4 linked regions of the Homo sapiens genome follow. The protein of the gene in region 2 interacts with the protein of the main gene of each other region in a pairwise test. Each region holds a gene or a part of one and is shown on either strand. Other genes may lie near its edges.

Evidence for each region. The genes of interacting proteins can lie anywhere in the genome.
Region 1: the proteins of LASP1 (region 2) and ARHGEF16 interact in binary tests that used the Homo sapiens proteins (3 or more experiments, as listed by UniProt).
Region 3: the proteins of LASP1 (region 2) and RNF38 interact in binary tests that used the Homo sapiens proteins (3 or more experiments, as listed by UniProt).
Region 4: the proteins of LASP1 (region 2) and FAM168B interact in binary tests that used the Homo sapiens proteins (3 or more experiments, as listed by UniProt).

The regions. Positions count from the first base shown.
Region 1 is NC_000001.11:3,460,959-3,464,992, reverse strand, and holds part of ARHGEF16 (rho guanine nucleotide exchange factor 16), read right to left. Parts: intron 1,928-4,034; coding exon of another isoform or gene 1,909-1,927; coding exon 1,321-1,908; intron 1-1,320. UniProt on the Homo sapiens protein: Guanyl-nucleotide exchange factor of the RHOG GTPase stimulating the exchange of RHOG-associated GDP for GTP. May play a role in chemotactic cell migration by mediating the activation of RAC1 by EPHA2.
Region 2 is NC_000017.11:38,876,173-38,880,206, reverse strand, and holds part of LASP1 (LIM and SH3 domain protein 1), read right to left. Parts: intron 2,122-4,034; coding exon 2,027-2,121; intron 1-2,026. UniProt on the Homo sapiens protein: Plays an important role in the regulation of dynamic actin-based, cytoskeletal activities.
Region 3 is NC_000009.12:36,393,442-36,397,475, reverse strand, and holds part of RNF38 (E3 ubiquitin-protein ligase RNF38), read left to right. Parts: intron 1-1,988; exon of another isoform or gene 1,989-2,072; intron 2,073-3,861; exon of another isoform or gene 3,862-3,915; intron 3,916-4,034. UniProt on the Homo sapiens protein: Acts as an E3 ubiquitin-protein ligase able to ubiquitinate p53/TP53 which promotes its relocalization to discrete foci associated with PML nuclear bodies. Exhibits preference for UBE2D2 as a E2 enzyme.
Region 4 is NC_000002.12:131,069,133-131,073,166, reverse strand, and holds part of FAM168B (myelin-associated neurite-outgrowth inhibitor), read left to right. Parts: exon of another isoform or gene 1-1,145; intron 1,146-1,228; coding exon 1,229-1,312; intron 1,313-4,034. UniProt on the Homo sapiens protein: Inhibitor of neuronal axonal outgrowth. Acts as a negative regulator of CDC42 and STAT3 and a positive regulator of STMN2. Positive regulator of CDC27.

The DNA.
Region 1 (4,034 bases), on a different chromosome or scaffold from region 2:
CGAGGACAGTGGCTGGTGCTGGGGACATGGGGGACCCCACCTCAGCCACCATCGGCCTGCAGTGGACGCCCATGGGACATTCTGACAGGTGGTCTTGGCGTCTCCTGAGGCTGGCACTGCCACTCCCAGTCTGGGCAGGAGCTGGGCCTGAGGAGGCAGCTGGGACGGCAACCAGTGAAGAAGACGCTCTGGCACACACCTTCCGTGGACACTGCCCAGAGGATGCCCAGAGGGCGGCTGTGATCTTTGCTTCCACATGGGGAAGCCAAGGCTCAGGAAGGTTCAGGAACTCATCTGGGTCACACAGCACCTGCCCCCGCCCTCGTCCTTCACTGAGGCAGCCCATATGCTTGGGGCCTGTTTTCCAACACGTCTGAGCAAGGCGCCCAACAAGAAGGACGCCCCTGGGGCCAGCCCTGCATCTGCTCTGCATTCTTGAGGGTGCTCGGGCTGCCAGGGCCTCCTGATGGGCGGTTCCAGGGCAGCTCGCCTCCCCTACCCCAGCCCTGCCTGAGCCCAGACCCACCAGCTAAAGAGACCAAGCAGGGTGGCCAGAGTCGCAGTCCTGGCTGGGTGGGTGTCCAGGTACCACGCAACTCTCCCTGAACGTGGCTTCCAGCTCCAGGGCTGCCTGAAATGAAGGCCTGGCCCCCAGCCGCAGGGGATGGTGACTCCGAGGATGAGGGACACTGGGCCCAGGAGCCCCAGCTGGACGCTCTGTCCCCTGGGCCCTAGTGACACATGCAGTCAGGCTACACCCTGCCCAGCAAAGGGTCTGCCGCCACCATGCCCCAGACCTAGAGCCACCACCAGCAGGCAGGGAAGCAGGGCTCTGTGTACAGAGGGAATGTGCAGACTTCTCCTAAGCCCCAGGCCACCGCACAGCTGCCCCGCTTCAGTCCCTCCCGCCTGAGTCCCTGTCTGGAGCTGCCGGGGCAGATGGAGCCCAGGCCAGTCACTGCAGCCAGGTCACCCTGAACCCTATCATCCAGGCAGGCCGGCTCCTGTCCAGAGCTCGGAAACAGGGACTGGGCCCTTCCAGGGATCTGCCCTCCACCAAGGCTGGGAGCGGGGACACCAGAGTCTGGGGGCCTCGGTAGAACCCTCGACCTTTCCGAGCCTCTGCTGCCTCATCTGTAAGGTGGGATCTTCACACTCACAGACTGGGCTGAACTGGAATAAACCAGTCGAGAGCCCTCATGCAGCAGGTGCTTACTAACGGCAGCTGCCATGATGCAGAAGATGACGGTGGTGGAGACGGCCAGGCCGCCCCTCTGCCTAGCAGCCCCCTCCCCACGGTCCACACGAGCAGGCCCCTACCTTGTTTTTGGCCGGGCTCCGAGTATGAGGCTGGCTGGGTTCCTCAGCCAGAGCCTGGAGCTTAGGGCTTAGCTGGATGGCATCTCCCTGGCCACCTGGCTTCCCCAGGCCCTTCATGGCCGCCCGGTAGGATTGGTTCCGCAGGTTCCGCCTCAGCATGCCCCCGGGGTCCTTGTCCACGTCCATGTCATCCAGGGAGAAGCTGGGGGCTGGGAGGAGCTTAGGGTCCCGCCGGGCGGCCTCCCTGCTAAGTACAGCCGCCCCGAAGCTCTGGTGGCGGGCTGGGGTCTTTGCCTTGCTGGCCACAGCCAGGCTCTTAGGGATCAGCTGTTGGGTGCCCAGCTTGAGGGCCGCCGGGCTCTCTGTGCTCAGGACGATGGGCCATGGCTCCTCGTGCCCCGGGGGCCGAGGCTGTGGGGGTGCCGGGACCTGGGGCTGGAAGGCGGCATCGTCTCTAACACGCGGGGAGCCACGGACCATTGGGAGCCCGGAGGCTGGGTTCCCCCCGGCATCGAGCCGGAGCTCCGAGTGGAAGCGGTGTCCCAGGAGCTTCTCCTCCAAGGAGCTGTCTGAGTGCCGCTGGGCCATGCTGGGCGGCTGTGGGGTCCTGGGGGAAGGGCAGAAGTGAGGTCTCGTGAGGCTGCTCTCCCCTGCCCCCGCGGGTGTCCACCCCCCTACCCCTTTGCATATGTCTGGCCGGGGCTCCAGTACAGCTCCCAGGACACAGCAGGCAAGGACAGCGACGCAGCCAGGAGCACAGTGGATCAGTGGCACAGCCAGTCCTGACCACTGGGAGCCAGCCATGTCTGAGGCCGGAGGCTGGACACAGGATGGGACTGGGCAGGCGCTGGTTCTCCGAGCTCCAAGGGACCAGGTGGGCACAGCCTATGGGGGTAGGCTGGACCTTGGAGGTTGGGAGGCCACACTGCTTCCTCTGATGGGCAGCACGCACTGAGGACACATTCCTGAGCCTGGAGGCAGGTGGGGCAGCTCAGGTGCATGGCCCTGGAGCCCTGAAGACCTGGCCTGGAATCCTGGCTCACACCTGGCAGCCATGCAGCCTCCTGGAACCACTTCCTCGTGGTGAACGCAAGGGTCATGGCGTTGCACTGGGGGGCTTCCTGAGGCCGGCATCAGCCACAGCGGCAGTGACCACAGCCTCTGCCTCATTGGGGTCTTCCAGGCACCTGAGCCAGGCTCTGCTGGGTTGGGGGGAGGGCAGGTGCATTTGCCCACATGCTCCCGGCCCGAGCCCAGGCCTGTGTGATTCCCCTCTCTTAGCCACACAGTGATATGACTGTCGCGGACTGTCCATGGAACCTTTCCACACACCAGGCAACACGCTTGCATTTTTCCACGTTTCTGAACTGGGCATAAAGCTGACAATTCTGGTCTCAGGAGCCCCACCAGTCACCAGCCCGAGAGTCCAGTATGACACCTGGCCACTGGGCAGGTGTGGTGGTGGCAGGGGTGGCAGCCCACAGTCCCACGTACACCCCCCAGCAGAGAGCGGGAGCTGCCCTGTAGACATCTCTGTAGCCCGATCCCCACACCCCGTGGGCTGCCCCGCCCCCGCCACACTCCTGCCCGCCCCTCCTGGCAGCGCGTGCCCCCGAGCCCATCTCTACCCCACTGTTCCCTTCATGGTCCGGGGCTGGCACCCTGCCCCTGACACTACTGCTTCCCATTTCTCACTTTCCTCCTTCCAGACCCGAGGCAGGGCTGCCCTTCTGCCCCTTGGGAATGGCACAGTCCTGAGACTGGCTTTGGGACATACGTGCCTGCCAGGTAGGAATGTGGAGAGCCAGCTCTCGACCTGCCTCTGCGTCTTCCCTGGCTGCCATGACTATAGGCACGCGTGGCCAGGCAGAGCCTCAATGGCCTGGACCCCGTGTGACCGAGATGTGCAGAGCCCCCAGCCGACACGGCCTCCAGGAGCCGGGCCCAGAGGTCTGTTTCCAGGCACTTTGCGGGGCTGTTGTGGCTACACATCACCTCCTGAGTGACGGCGCATTGCTCGGCCACAGCGGTCAGGCCCACAGTGAGCTTTCACGCCCCGGGCTGCTTGCAACCCCCCTGGGCACTTGCAACCCTCAGGCCACTGAGCAATGGATTCCGAGGGTCTGGTCTCTCAGGCCTCCCAGCTTTCCCCTCTGCTGCTCAGGGGCTCCCCACACGTGTCAGGGAGCAGCCCTGACCCAGGCATGTGGTCAATGAGCAAGTGACGCTGCCTCTCCGTGCCTCAGTTTCAAAATCTGCAAAATGGGCATGATAAGAGCAAGGCCCACCTCCTGAAGGTACGGTGGGAAGTGTAAAGCGTGCAAAGCGTGTAACAGGCCTGGCCGGTGTGAGGCCTGCGTCTGCGCCGCAGTGACCAAGGCCTTGCCGAATCACAGACAAGCTCATGCTCCCTATGCTCAGGGAGCTTCGTAGGTTCAAAAGGTAACGACATGGAGAAAACTCGCTGCTTTCATTCTTTCCCTTTTAAAAAATAAAGATAAAAACAATAACCACCACCACTCAGTATGCCTCCTATACACCCAGAACGTCACACACATGAAAATGACCGGAGTCTCTTGCGGGTGGAAACTGATTTTTCTGATGGGAAAACAAGGCTGAGTCACTCGCCCAAAGTCACTTCCTGCAGGGAGGTTGCCTACAGTCAGCCACACAACTGACCTGGATTAGCACCTTTGGAGTGTCCACAGGGCACC
Region 2 (4,034 bases):
CAGACTTCTGCGTGCTGGGGCGGAGGCTCAGAATCTAGCCTGAGGTGGTCCAGCAACGGAGGGGTTAACTGCCCTGGCTTCTCTGAACCCCACCCCACTACCCAATGGAGGGAGGAAGTGGCAGAGAACCAGGGCTTGTGTGAGCCCTTAAGAATTCGAAGAATGTCCCATTTCCCTTGTGGGGGTGGGAGGGGTTGGTAGGGGGAAGAGGAACAGTAGAAATTAATAGAAGAGAAGGGGCAGCTGAAGGAGGGGCCAGGACAGAGCTGCAACCCTTCCTTTACCCAGATAACCTGCCCAGTGCCCTCCTTCTTCCAGAAGGGACAACTTCATGTTGCTTCTTGGGCTTGAGATTTTTATCAGGAATCTGTTTTCCCAGCACCTGGTGCAGGTTAGTATGTATTATAGCAGCAGGCAGGCAATAAATGTCTGCTGAATGAGCGAGCCCCTAAAAAGATGAAAGAGTGGTCTTAGCCAGGGAACGGGAGGGGGTAAGGAAGCAAGGAAGGTTTGGGGTAAGGTTAGGGGTAAGGCTGGAGGTTTAAGCCCCCTTTTTAGACAAGTCCCAAATTTTTTTTTCCCTGGGTGAACTTCAGCTGCAAAGAGCCTCCTGACTGAGAATTAAGAGAAAAAAAAAAAAAACTGGACTCAAGTCAGATCCTAAATTCATGTGAACACTGAAATTACCATTACTTGAGTTGGTTGAAGTTAAAAAAAAAAAAGTTAAAATTAAAAAAAAAATCGAATTAAGGCTGGGCGAGGTGGCTTATACCTGTAATCCCAGCACTTTGGGAGGCTGAGGCGGTGCATCACTTGAGGTCAGGAGTTCGAGACCAGCCTGGCCAACACGGTGAAACCCCGGTCTCTACTAAAAAATACAAAAATTAGCTGGGCATGGTAGCATGCATCTGTAATCCCAGCTACTCAGGAGGCTTAGGTACAAGAATCGCTTGAATCCAAGAGGCGGAGGTTGCAGTGAGCCAAGATCGCGCCACTGCACTCCAACCTGGGTGATGAGTCCTCTGACTCAAAAAAAAAAAAAAAAGCAAATTAAAAGAAAAAGAAATTATCATTACATCATTACTTATAAGTGACTTGACCTTCCAAAGCCTCCACCTCGCAGGTGGAGGCGGCTGTGAGGCCCCAACACTGAGTTTGTACTTGCTACTCACAAGGTCAATTGGAAGATGGAAAATTGCTGTACTTTCTGGGATTGCATGGGATGGGATGGGATGGGATGGGAGGGGAGGTATTCCTCCAGGCTCTGGGATGGGGGACCCCACCTCTATACTCCCTCCCTACCGTCAGCTGCTGCAGGTCCCAGTGCAGAAGGAACAGAGCTGCACTATACTCAAGATGACTATACTCAAAAGAAACAGTCTCCACAGCCTCCCTCACCAGGCAGGGAAGAGATCTATCTGGCCCAGGCAACACCCTTTATGCACCCCTGCCCATTCTCAAAAAATGAACACCAAAAGGGCTGGCATGAGGCTTCCAGAGAGTTTTCTTGAAGGAACCACTGGAGGAAGGAGCCCCCAAAGCCTAGAAGTACCCAGGTGAGAGAAGGAAACTGTCGATTTTGAGGAGAGAAATAAGGGAAGGTAAACAGAACAAAGTCCTCAACCCCAAATACAACAGACACGTCACTCATTCTTGAAAGACCACGAGGAAAGCCCCCTCTTTTGTAGCAGGGGACAGTGGAAAGAAACGTGCTCGCCTTACTGCCCGAAATTGGGTTAGAGCCTGTCTTGCCCTAGCCATCCCACCTTGAGAGTCTCTTCCCTTCCCTAAGCCCCAGTTTCCTCATCTGTACTTTAAATGCACTTTAAATGGGGGATAAAAGCACTTTAAATGGGGATAAAAAGTGCTTGCTTCATTCAGCTGTTGTGAGGACAAACTGTGATGTTCAAGTAGGGGATGGAAGTGTTCGCCAATGTCACCTTGCGGTTATTGGAAGGAAAGGAAGAACTCACTCGGGGAGGGAGCCAAGGTGCCCACCCAGCCCCCTGCCCAGAACAGGACTCACGCGTTGCAGTAGGGCTTCTTCTCGTAGCCCTTGTAGTTCTTCATGTTCAGTGTCATCTTGCAGGTCTCGCAATGGAAGCATGCTTTATGCCAGAACTGGGGATGGAGACAGGAGGACATACATCAGATACCAGGACTTCTGAAAAAGGGGCTCAGGCCCTAGGAAGGGGCACTCAGGAGCTGCTGGGACTGTCCTAGGCCCATGGCTGTGGGGAGAACATGGAATCATCCCAGGTGAGCTGGGGGCATTTCAGGTCACAGGCTTTGGCACTCCCCTCCCCTCTCTCCTTCCTCATCCTCCACCAATGGGCCATTTGAACCCAGGAGGAAGAGACAGGCAGGCATGAAGGACAGGGGGGAAGAGCCCAGTTATAGCAGTGGCAGCAGCCCCCAAGTCAGCTCCACCCTCCCCAGGGAACCCCTCCTGCCCAGAGCTGGCGAGGCCTCATTGCTTATGCAAAGCTGCGCTGGGTTGCTAGGGAGCAGCCGCTGAACATGAAGGAGCAGCTCCTCTGGTGGCACCAAGGCCTCAGAAGAGGAAGGCCCAGCCCCCACACACCCAGGCCCAGAACCCAGGTGCTCCTAGCTCCTGTACCAGGGCCCAGCACACCCACCAGCCCCACATGAGCCCCAGGTGGTGCTACAGCTCCGATACCTCCCACTTCCTGTGGGATGCCTGGCCAGAGGAGTGGGCTGGGTGTCCCAGGCTCTGTCAACACAACACATCCTTTCTACCCTTCCCTCATCCTCTCCCACCCCAGGAGGAGGGCAGGAGAGCACCCGGCAGCGGGTCTCCCACTGAGGCACTGAAGGGCTCTACTTCAAAGCCTTGAAGGTGGACACCCCTATAGTGGACATCAAAGCTCTACCCCACTAACTGTATGGCCTTGGGCGGGGCCCTGCACCTCAGAGGAGCCCACTTCCTGGTGTGTACAATGGATGTAATAACACCTGGCCCTCCTGGGATTGTCCAGGACTGAGGAGAAATCACCTTCAAAGCCCTCAGCACAGCACTTGGCACCTCTGAGCACTCAGATGTCAGGTGCTGGGCACAGCAGGTGTGAACCTTAGCCGAGGGGGTCAGGGCTCACACTGGAGATTGTGTGTGTTGGGGTGCAGAGGGGCTTCACTGTGCCAACCACAGCTCCAATCCATTCATGCGTGTGAGAATGTGGGACACGGCCGGGCACGGTGGCTCACGCCTGTAATCCCGCACTTTGGGAGGCCGAGGCGGGCGGATCATGAGGTCAAGAGATCGAGACCATCCTGGCTAACATGGTGAAACCCCATCTCTACTAAAAAGACAAAAAAATTAGCCAGGCGTGGTGGCGGGTGCCTGTAGTCCCAGCTACTTGGGAGGCTGAGGCAGGAGAATGGCGTGAACCCAGGCCACTGCACTCCAGTCTGGGTGACAGAGCAAGACTCCGTCTCAAAAAAAAAAAAGAGAATGTGGGACACAGGGCCCATCCAGGGTGGCCGACGGAGGGAAGAGAGTGATGACAGAAAGAGAACAGATCTAGCCGGGAGCGGTGGCTCACGCCTATAATCCGAGCACTTCGGGAGGCTGTGGCAGGCGGATTACTGGAGGTTGGGAGTTCAAGACCAGCCTGGCCAACATGGTGAAACCCCGTATCTACTAAAAATACAAAAAAATTAGCCGGGTGCAGTGACGGCGTGCCTGTAATCCCAGCTACTCGGGAGGCTGAGGCAGGAGAATCGCTTGAACCCAGGAGGCAGAGATTGCGGTGAGCTGAGATCATGCCACTGCACTCCAGCCTGGGGTATAGAGCGAGACTTAATCTCAAAAATAAATAAATAAATAAATAAATAAATAAATAGGCCGGGTATGGTGGCGCATGCCTGTAATTCCAGCTACTTGGGAGGCTGAGGCAAAAGAATCACTTAAACCCAGGAGGTGGAGGTTGCAGTGAGCCAAGATTGTGCCACTGCACTCCAGCCTGGGTGACAGAGCAAGACTCTGTCTCAAAAAAAAAAAAAAAAAAAAGAGA
Region 3 (4,034 bases), on a different chromosome or scaffold from region 2:
CATAGTACCAGTCCTTGAATGGTTTCTCCTAATACTGCCTATTAGCTTTTCAAAATTATTTTTAAATTATTTTTTAGCTCACGCCTGTAATCCCAGCACTTTGGGAGGCCGAGGTTGGTGGATCACCTGAGGTCAGGAGTTTGAAACCAGCCTGAATAATATGATGAAATCCTGTCTCTACTAAAAATAAAAAAATTAGTCGGGTGTGGTGACCAGCACCTGTAATCCGCTACTCTGGAGGCTGAAGCAGGAGAATTGCTTGAACCCAGGAGGTGAAGACTGCAGTGAGTCAGGATTGTGCGAGTCAGGATTGCGCCACTGCACTCCACCCTGGGCAACAAGAGCAAAGCTCTGTCTCAAAAAAAAAAAAACAAAACATATATATATATATATACACACACACATATATATACGTATATATACATGTGTATATACGTATATACGTATATACACACACACACACATATATAAAGCAAATTGTGACCGTTGTGTAGTGAGAGAATGATTTTTTTTTTATTCCTTTCAGTCTTTTTCATGTGTCATTTGTGTATGAGAACTGTTGAAGCTTAGAGATGAATGACTTAGAAATTTTGTCTTGGATCTCAAAGGGTAGTAACATCTCAGAGGGTCAGTTCTACCCAGTGTTTGGACCTCAGTTTTCCAGAACCAGGCTCTCGATTTTTTTTTTTAAAGAAGCTTTATTAAGTTATGTTTTATATACCATAAAATTCACTCCATTCAATTAGATTTTTTTGGTTACATTTTGAACATTTCTGTCATCCCCCAAAGATCCCTGTGCCCATCCAGGCCTGCCTTTTGCATAACTCTAAGCGTGCACAGTCCCATTCCTGTTTGCAGTGTTCTCTCCTGGACCAGCTTTGAAGAATGCCATCCGGGACTTTGAGTACCCCTGCTCCACACTGTCAAAATCCTTTCAGAGAACTCTGCTCCCAGAAAACAAAAGCCAAGGAAACAGATTTGTTTTAGGCCCAGTGATAGAACTCTTCTCAAAGGAAAGGTGACATTTAGGTCTAGTTTATTCTCAGAACAGGGAAAAAAAAAAATCCTAGCAAGGAGCACAGCATGCATCAGTAGCTCAATGATTTATTCTGCCTCAGTAGGATGGGGTGGACTTACTGGGCAACCACTGACTTCATTTAATGGTAACCTGCAGGTGAGTGCATCAGATCTCTTCCTTGATCAAAGCTTTTAGCTTGTCTCATTGCCAACCAGATTTCTAAGAAACTTGTTACACAAATCAGAAAGGCAGGCTGTTACATCATTTGCTTACAGTTTGGAAGATTATTCTTTTAATAAATAGTTGAATGCCTGCTATGTGCCATGTACTCTTCTAGGTGTTAGTGACATTGTGCTGAACAGGACATGGAGCTTATACATGTTCTCCTGAGTGTATGCTCAAGTCACCTCATTGATTTGGCTGCTCTATTTAATCTTTATAGGGAGTTCTCTGTTTTTCTTCCTAATATTCCAAGATAACTTTTTTCTTGAATTTATGAAGTCCTGTTCATATATAACCCTACCTTATGATCATAGCATTTAAATAATTTTCTCCTCCCCCAAGTAGTAGTGTTTCTGGTTGCTACTTTTTAATGGCTGCATAGTTCAAGCAAGTGTACCGTAATTTTACTTAGCAAGTATTTGTTAAACATTTAGGTTGCTTCTAGTTACCTTTTAAATTGTCGCTATTATTGTGCTGTGGTGACCATATTCATGCATATGGCTTTTCTCGTATTTTGGTATATAACCTGATAATTTGTCAGTTTAAATATTAGAGATTCAAACATGTTTTTTAAATTATTAATCTACCTAATTACTTCCAAGAGATTAACAGTTGCTATCATGGAAGTGGTGAGAATATTTGGAGTTTTGGATTTGACTTTATTTTACAGATAACCAGACTTGTAGCTAGAGGTGACACTAAGCACCTGACTCCTCATCTAATGTTTTGTTTTCGTCTTTTATATTAGGCTGTGATTTTAGTGCTTTTGACCGACCAGTTGGTATGCTGAAGAATGCTTTGTGGGCCTTCGTGAACACCTTATTTTGTAGAAGTACGTTATGTCATACTGGCTTAGAAGTCATGTACCTGTATCCTCTCTCTCACTTTTACTGGAGAAAAAAAAAAAAGGAAATGAACGAAGAAGGATGCTGTTGTCAGAAGCAATTTTAAATGTTTTGGGACAGTGTCTTGTCCTAAGTGCTAATTTTAGTGCGATAATTACTAATAATACCTGCAAGTCTCCAAGAAAAGTTAAATTGTTGGTTATGTTACCAAAACACAGAATGGCCAGATTAAACAAAGGATGTCCTAAAATAGTAGTGTTGATGCTTAAAAGGTTAAACTGTTTTCTGTAAACTTTAGTTTTGTGAAATAGGGTTTTCTTAGTTATGCTTAATGAATTAGTCATATGATTATATGGAAATAGACATTAAACATGATAAGTTTTGGGAGTTGCAGACTTAATGTGGTCTCAGGATGTTTCCTTGGCAGGACTTTTTAAATACAGGTTGCATTCTGGGAGAAAGCCAGAGTTAGCAAATCTGTAATGCTGAAAAGTTGCCAGCCTAGAGAAAAATTATATCAGTTTTCAGGAAACAAGTTTATTTTTAAGTACTAAAAATGGTTTTAAATAGGCCTGGTGGAATAGTTGATACTTACTAATCAAACTAGATTATAAAAAAGAATGTTACTTTAAAGTAGAAGGTGGTTTTGTGGGTTGAGTATGAACCTTAGAATTCGATAGACTTGAGTTCAGATTATGGTTTTGATATTTCTGAGGTATGTGACTTTAAGCAAGTCTGTTAAACCTGATGTTCAGTGTATAAAGATGGGAGAGCCCAGTTCAGTTTCTGGCATGAAGCTAGCTGTTACCAGATTGAGGCTTTAAAACCTGCTATACTGCTTAAATAAAAATGTGTTAATTTTTATATCTTTTGTAATCAAATCAGTGTAGCCAAAATTCTGGAGAAGAAACTTTTTCACTGTGGTACAATAATTTTTATTCAAGTTATATACATACACATTGTGTTTTCTGTAACAAATTACTACAAATTTATTTGTTTAAAACACAAATATTTCCTTACAATTTCCATGAATCAGGAGTCCTGGTATGGGGTTAGCTGCTGGGCCCCCAGGGTCTTACCTTGCAGGAGCTGTGATTTCTTTCTTTTCTTTTTTTTTTTGAGACAGTCTTGCTCTGTCGCCAGGCTGGAGTGCAGTGGCACGATCTTGGCTCACTGCAACCTCCACCTCCCGGATTCAAGTGATTCTCCTGCCTCAGCCTCCCAAGTAGCTGGGACTACAGGTGTGCGCCACCACGCCCAGCTAATTTTTGTATTTTTAGTAGAGATGGGGTTTCATCATGTTGGCCAGGTTGGTCTCTATCTCTTGACCTTGTGATCTGCCCGCCTCGGCCTCCCAAAGTGCTGGGATTACAGGCGTGAGCCACTGTACCCGGCCCAGAGCTGTGATTTCATCCGTGTCTCCTTCCAAGTTCACTGGTAGAATGTGGTTCTTGTGATTATAGGACTGAGGTCCCCCATTTCTTGCTGGTCGTCAACTGGTGACTGCTTTCAGCTCCTAGAAGCTGCCCTCAAGCCCCTGCCACATGGTACCTTTCGCATGCCTTCTCACAACATCTTAGTCTGAAGAATTGGCAAGAGAATCTCTTGGGAAGGACTCAGTTCTGCTTTCTCTGATTAAGTCATGCCCAGGCTCACCCAGGATAATCTGTCTTTAGCTTGAATTCACCTTACTTGGAATCTTCATTACATCTGAACGTCTTTCCTCCTTTGTCATATGATTTAACCTAATAATGGGAATGAAATACATCACATTCACAGCCCTGCCTGCGCACATGGGGAAGGGGGTTGTACAGGAGATGGACACCAGAGGTAATCTTGGGCAACCTATGTATGGGACTGCCTGCCCCACACACACACACACACACACACACACACACACACACACACACACAATGTGTGTGTGTGATTTTATTTTACCTAGTAGTAAA
Region 4 (4,034 bases), on a different chromosome or scaffold from region 2:
GAGCCGAGATCTCACCACTGCACTCCAGCGTAGGCAACAGAGCAAGACTCTGTCTTAGAAAAAAAAAAGAACATCAGAATGTGAAAAAACCTGAAATGAATTTAGAAGTTTAAAACAGTTTCTTACAACAAAAAATAATAGCTTTTAAGTCAAAATATGTAATGTAGGAAATGTCGGAATTCAGTGAAAATGAGTGACCTTTACATAGGCTTAGCTGTTCACTGGTAGCAGCAAAAATAGGCCCTTGAGTCCAAGCTAGACTTGAATTCTGATTCTTCCAGACTTTGTGCAGTGAAGTCAGATGAGGGTAACAGGACCTAGCGTGTGATACCCTTAGCACTCTTACTACTCTTGCTAAGTAATTATGTGATTAGAGTTTGGAATGAAACTTCCAGAAATGTTATAATTGAGGCTTGGCGCGGTGGCTTATGCCTGTAATCCCAGCACTTCGGGAGGCTGAGGTGGGTGGATCATGAGGTCAGGAGTTCGAGACCAGCCTGGTCACCATGGTGAAACCTTGTCTCTACTAAAAATACAAAAATTAGCTGGGCGTGGTGGTAGATGCCTGTAATCCCAGCTACTCGGAAGGCTGAGGCAGGAGAATCGCTTGAAACGGAGGTTGCAGTGAGCCGAGGTCGCGCCACTGCACTCTAGCCTGGGCAACAAGAGTGAAACTCTGTCCCCCTCCAAAAAATAAATAAAAATAAAATATATAATTGTTACCTATCAAAATTCTGAGGGAAAGCCAGGCGTGGTGGCTCACACCTATAATCCCAGCACTTTGGGAGGCCGAGGCGGGTGGATCAACTGAAATCAGGAGTTCAAGACCAGCCTGGCTAACGTGATGAAACCCCGTCTCTACTAAAAATAGAAAAATTAGCCAGGTGTGGTGACACACACCTGTAATCCCAGCTCTTCGGAAGGCTGAGGCAGGAGAATCGCTTGAACCTGGGAGGCAGAGGTTGCAGTGAGCCAAGATCATGCCATTGCACTCCAGCCTGGGCGATGAAAGTGAAACTCTGTCTCAAAAGACGACAACGATAAAAAAAACAAAGTTCTGCGGGAAGAAGACAACTAGAGACATGCTGTTGGCCACACATAGTGCTCTTGGGGCTGCTTAAGTCTGTGGAGTTCTGGGGAAGAAGGTAAGAGCGATGGCTTTGCAGGAGCTCTAGTGATTGTCGCTACTTCAGTTGATGACATGAGATTGTTCTTTATTTTTCTTCAGCTGGTTTTCCCATGGGCTATGCAGCAGCAGCTCCTGCCTATTCTCCTAACATGTATCCTGGAGCGAATCCTACCTTCCAAACAGGTATGTGCTGGGTGGTAAAATGCTTTGTACGTACAGCTGGGAGAGAAAGGTGAAGGGGTGGATTTTGAGAGGGGTGGGTATAGAATTAGGACTTGGTTGAGTCGATTTCTCAAGTTCATTAAGTTAGCCTGTTGATAAGTGCAACAAAAGCTTAATTCTTACTGCACTGAAGCTTTATATACTGTGTTTCTCATGTCCTCCCACAAGGCAAATCTGTAATCACTAGGTTGTTAACTCTGCCAGAGCATCTGTTCATGAAATAGTATCACCTACTAGAAATTGAAGAATTTCTTGCCATGCCAACAGGTGGAATTTCCATGTTAATGTTTTTAGAGATAATTTTTGGTTAGACTACTTTAGCACTCTGATAATATTTTTTAAAAAAGTATTATTTTCCATGTAATGTATAGATGAATATTTTTAGATTTTGGAAATCACTGTTAATATTAAAAGTGGAATTGGTTTGGGTCTGAATCTTGAGGAGATTGGTTATTTAGTGGGATTTCCTGCTAGGAGCCTGCACTCTCTGGTGTTGGTTCCTTTTGGACTTTTTTCACCCACACGGGGCTTTGCCTTTCTGCCGCAGCAGTGGTGGTGCACACTCTGATCTGAGGCTGTGGTTTGGCCTTAATCCTGGGACTGCTGGGGCAACTTTATCCCTCAACAGTAGCTTCACACAGTTAACTTTGACAGAGGAGGAGACAACAGCAGTGTCCTTTCCCCAGATTCTTCCTGTTTTGTTAATCATAAAATTCTGCCTTTATATTCTGTCCTTACATCCATCTCTTCGTTTCCATTTCCACTTCCACTATGACCCTATATGACCACCCTTGTTCAGACCGTAGTTCACACCCTGAGAAAAACGTTCTTGACTTGGTCTTCCTGCTCCCAAGCTTTCTTTCCCCGGGTTAGTGTTCTTCCCATTTAAACCAGAGCGATGCTCCCAGATGAATTTTTCTCAGTGGTTTCCCATGACTGTGAGACACAGTTATGCCTAGAGTCTCGACTTTCAGTCCCTAGCTGTTTGCCATATTGGCCCATTTTTTCCCTTTAGAGTGGTTTTCCTTTTGTGTTTTGCCTTGAAAGAACCATCCATCTCGTAGTGTATATTAGCAGTTCATTCCTTTTTATTGTTAGGTAGTATTTTGTTGTATGGAAATAAATACTTCAGTTTGCTTATCCATTTACCATGTGATGAACATTTGGGTTATTTGCAATTTTGGGCTATTACAAATGAAAATGCTATTAATATTTATATGCAGGTTATTGTGTGAACATACACTTTGATTTCTCTTGAGTAAATAAATACAGAGGATTTGAGTGGCTGGTTATTATGGCAAGTGTATATTTAACTTTGTGAGAAACTGCCAAACTGTCTTCCAAAGTGGTGGTACCATTTTACATTCCTACCAGCAGTGTTTGTGAGTTGTCGTTCCTCCACATCCTTAACAACACTTGGTGTGGTCAGTCTTTTTAATTCTAGCCATTCTAGTGAATGTGTAGCAGTATCTTTTCATGTGCGTATTTGCCTTCTGTATGTCTTTGGTGAAGAATTTGCTTTTACTGTATGTCAGTTATTGTTTTCTTATCGTTGAGTTTTTGAGAGTTCTTATCAGATATATGCGTGTTTTCTCCCAGTCTGTGGCTTTTTCATTCTTTTAACAACGTCTTTTAAAGAGCAGGGGTTTTAAAAGTTTAGGCTGGGCGCGGTGGCTCACGTCTGTAATCCCAGCAATTTGGGAGGCTGAGGCGGGTGGATCATGAGGTCAGGAGTTCGAGACCAGCCTGGCCAACGTGGTGAAACCCCGTCTCTACTAAAAATACAAAAATTAGCTGGGCTTGGAGGCGCACTCCGGTAATCCCGGCTACTAGGGAGGCTGAGGCAGGAGAATCACTTGAACCCAGGAGACAGAGGTTGCAGTGAGCCGAGATCGTGCCATAGCATTCCAGCCTGGGCGACAGGGTGAGACTCCGTCTCAACCAAAAAAAAAAAAGTTTGATGAGGGTTAGTCGTTTTATGGATCATGCTTTTGGTACCATACTTAATAAACCTGTGTAACTTGGCTGGGCGCAGTGGCTCACGCCTGTCGTCCCAGCACTTTGGGAGGCCGGGGTGGGTGGATCATGAGGTCAGGAGATCGAGACCATCCTGGCTAACGCGGTGAAACCCCCTCTCTACTAAAAATACAAAAAATTAGCTGGTCATGGTGGCGGGCTCCTGTAGTCCCAGCTACTCCAGAGGCTGAGGCAGGAGAATGGCCAGAACCTGGAAGGCGGAGCTTGCAGTGAGCCGAGATTGCGCCACTGCACTCCAGCCTGAGCGACAGAGCAGGACTCCGTCCCCAAAAAAAAAAACAAAAGAGAAAGAAACCTGTGTAACCTAACTTCACAAAGATTTTCTTCTTTTTTCTTGTAGAAGTTTTACACTTGTAGGTTTTACATTTATGTCTGTGACCCATTTGCAGTTAATTTTTGTGTATGATGGTAGGAATGGATTGAAGTTTATATCTTTGGCATACGTATCAATGTGGCATGTGATGATCATGCCGTAGACCACCATAACGTAAGTTACTCTTCTAGGATTTTCAGAGGTAGCCCACTTTTACTCATTTCTTCATGGAGCACAAATCAGTGTGAAAATGTACTTAAAACTTTCAACTTTTTTATTTTACAAGAAGAACCTTGAGTTAATTTCAGGCTGAGAGCTGTTCTTGCCAAAAAT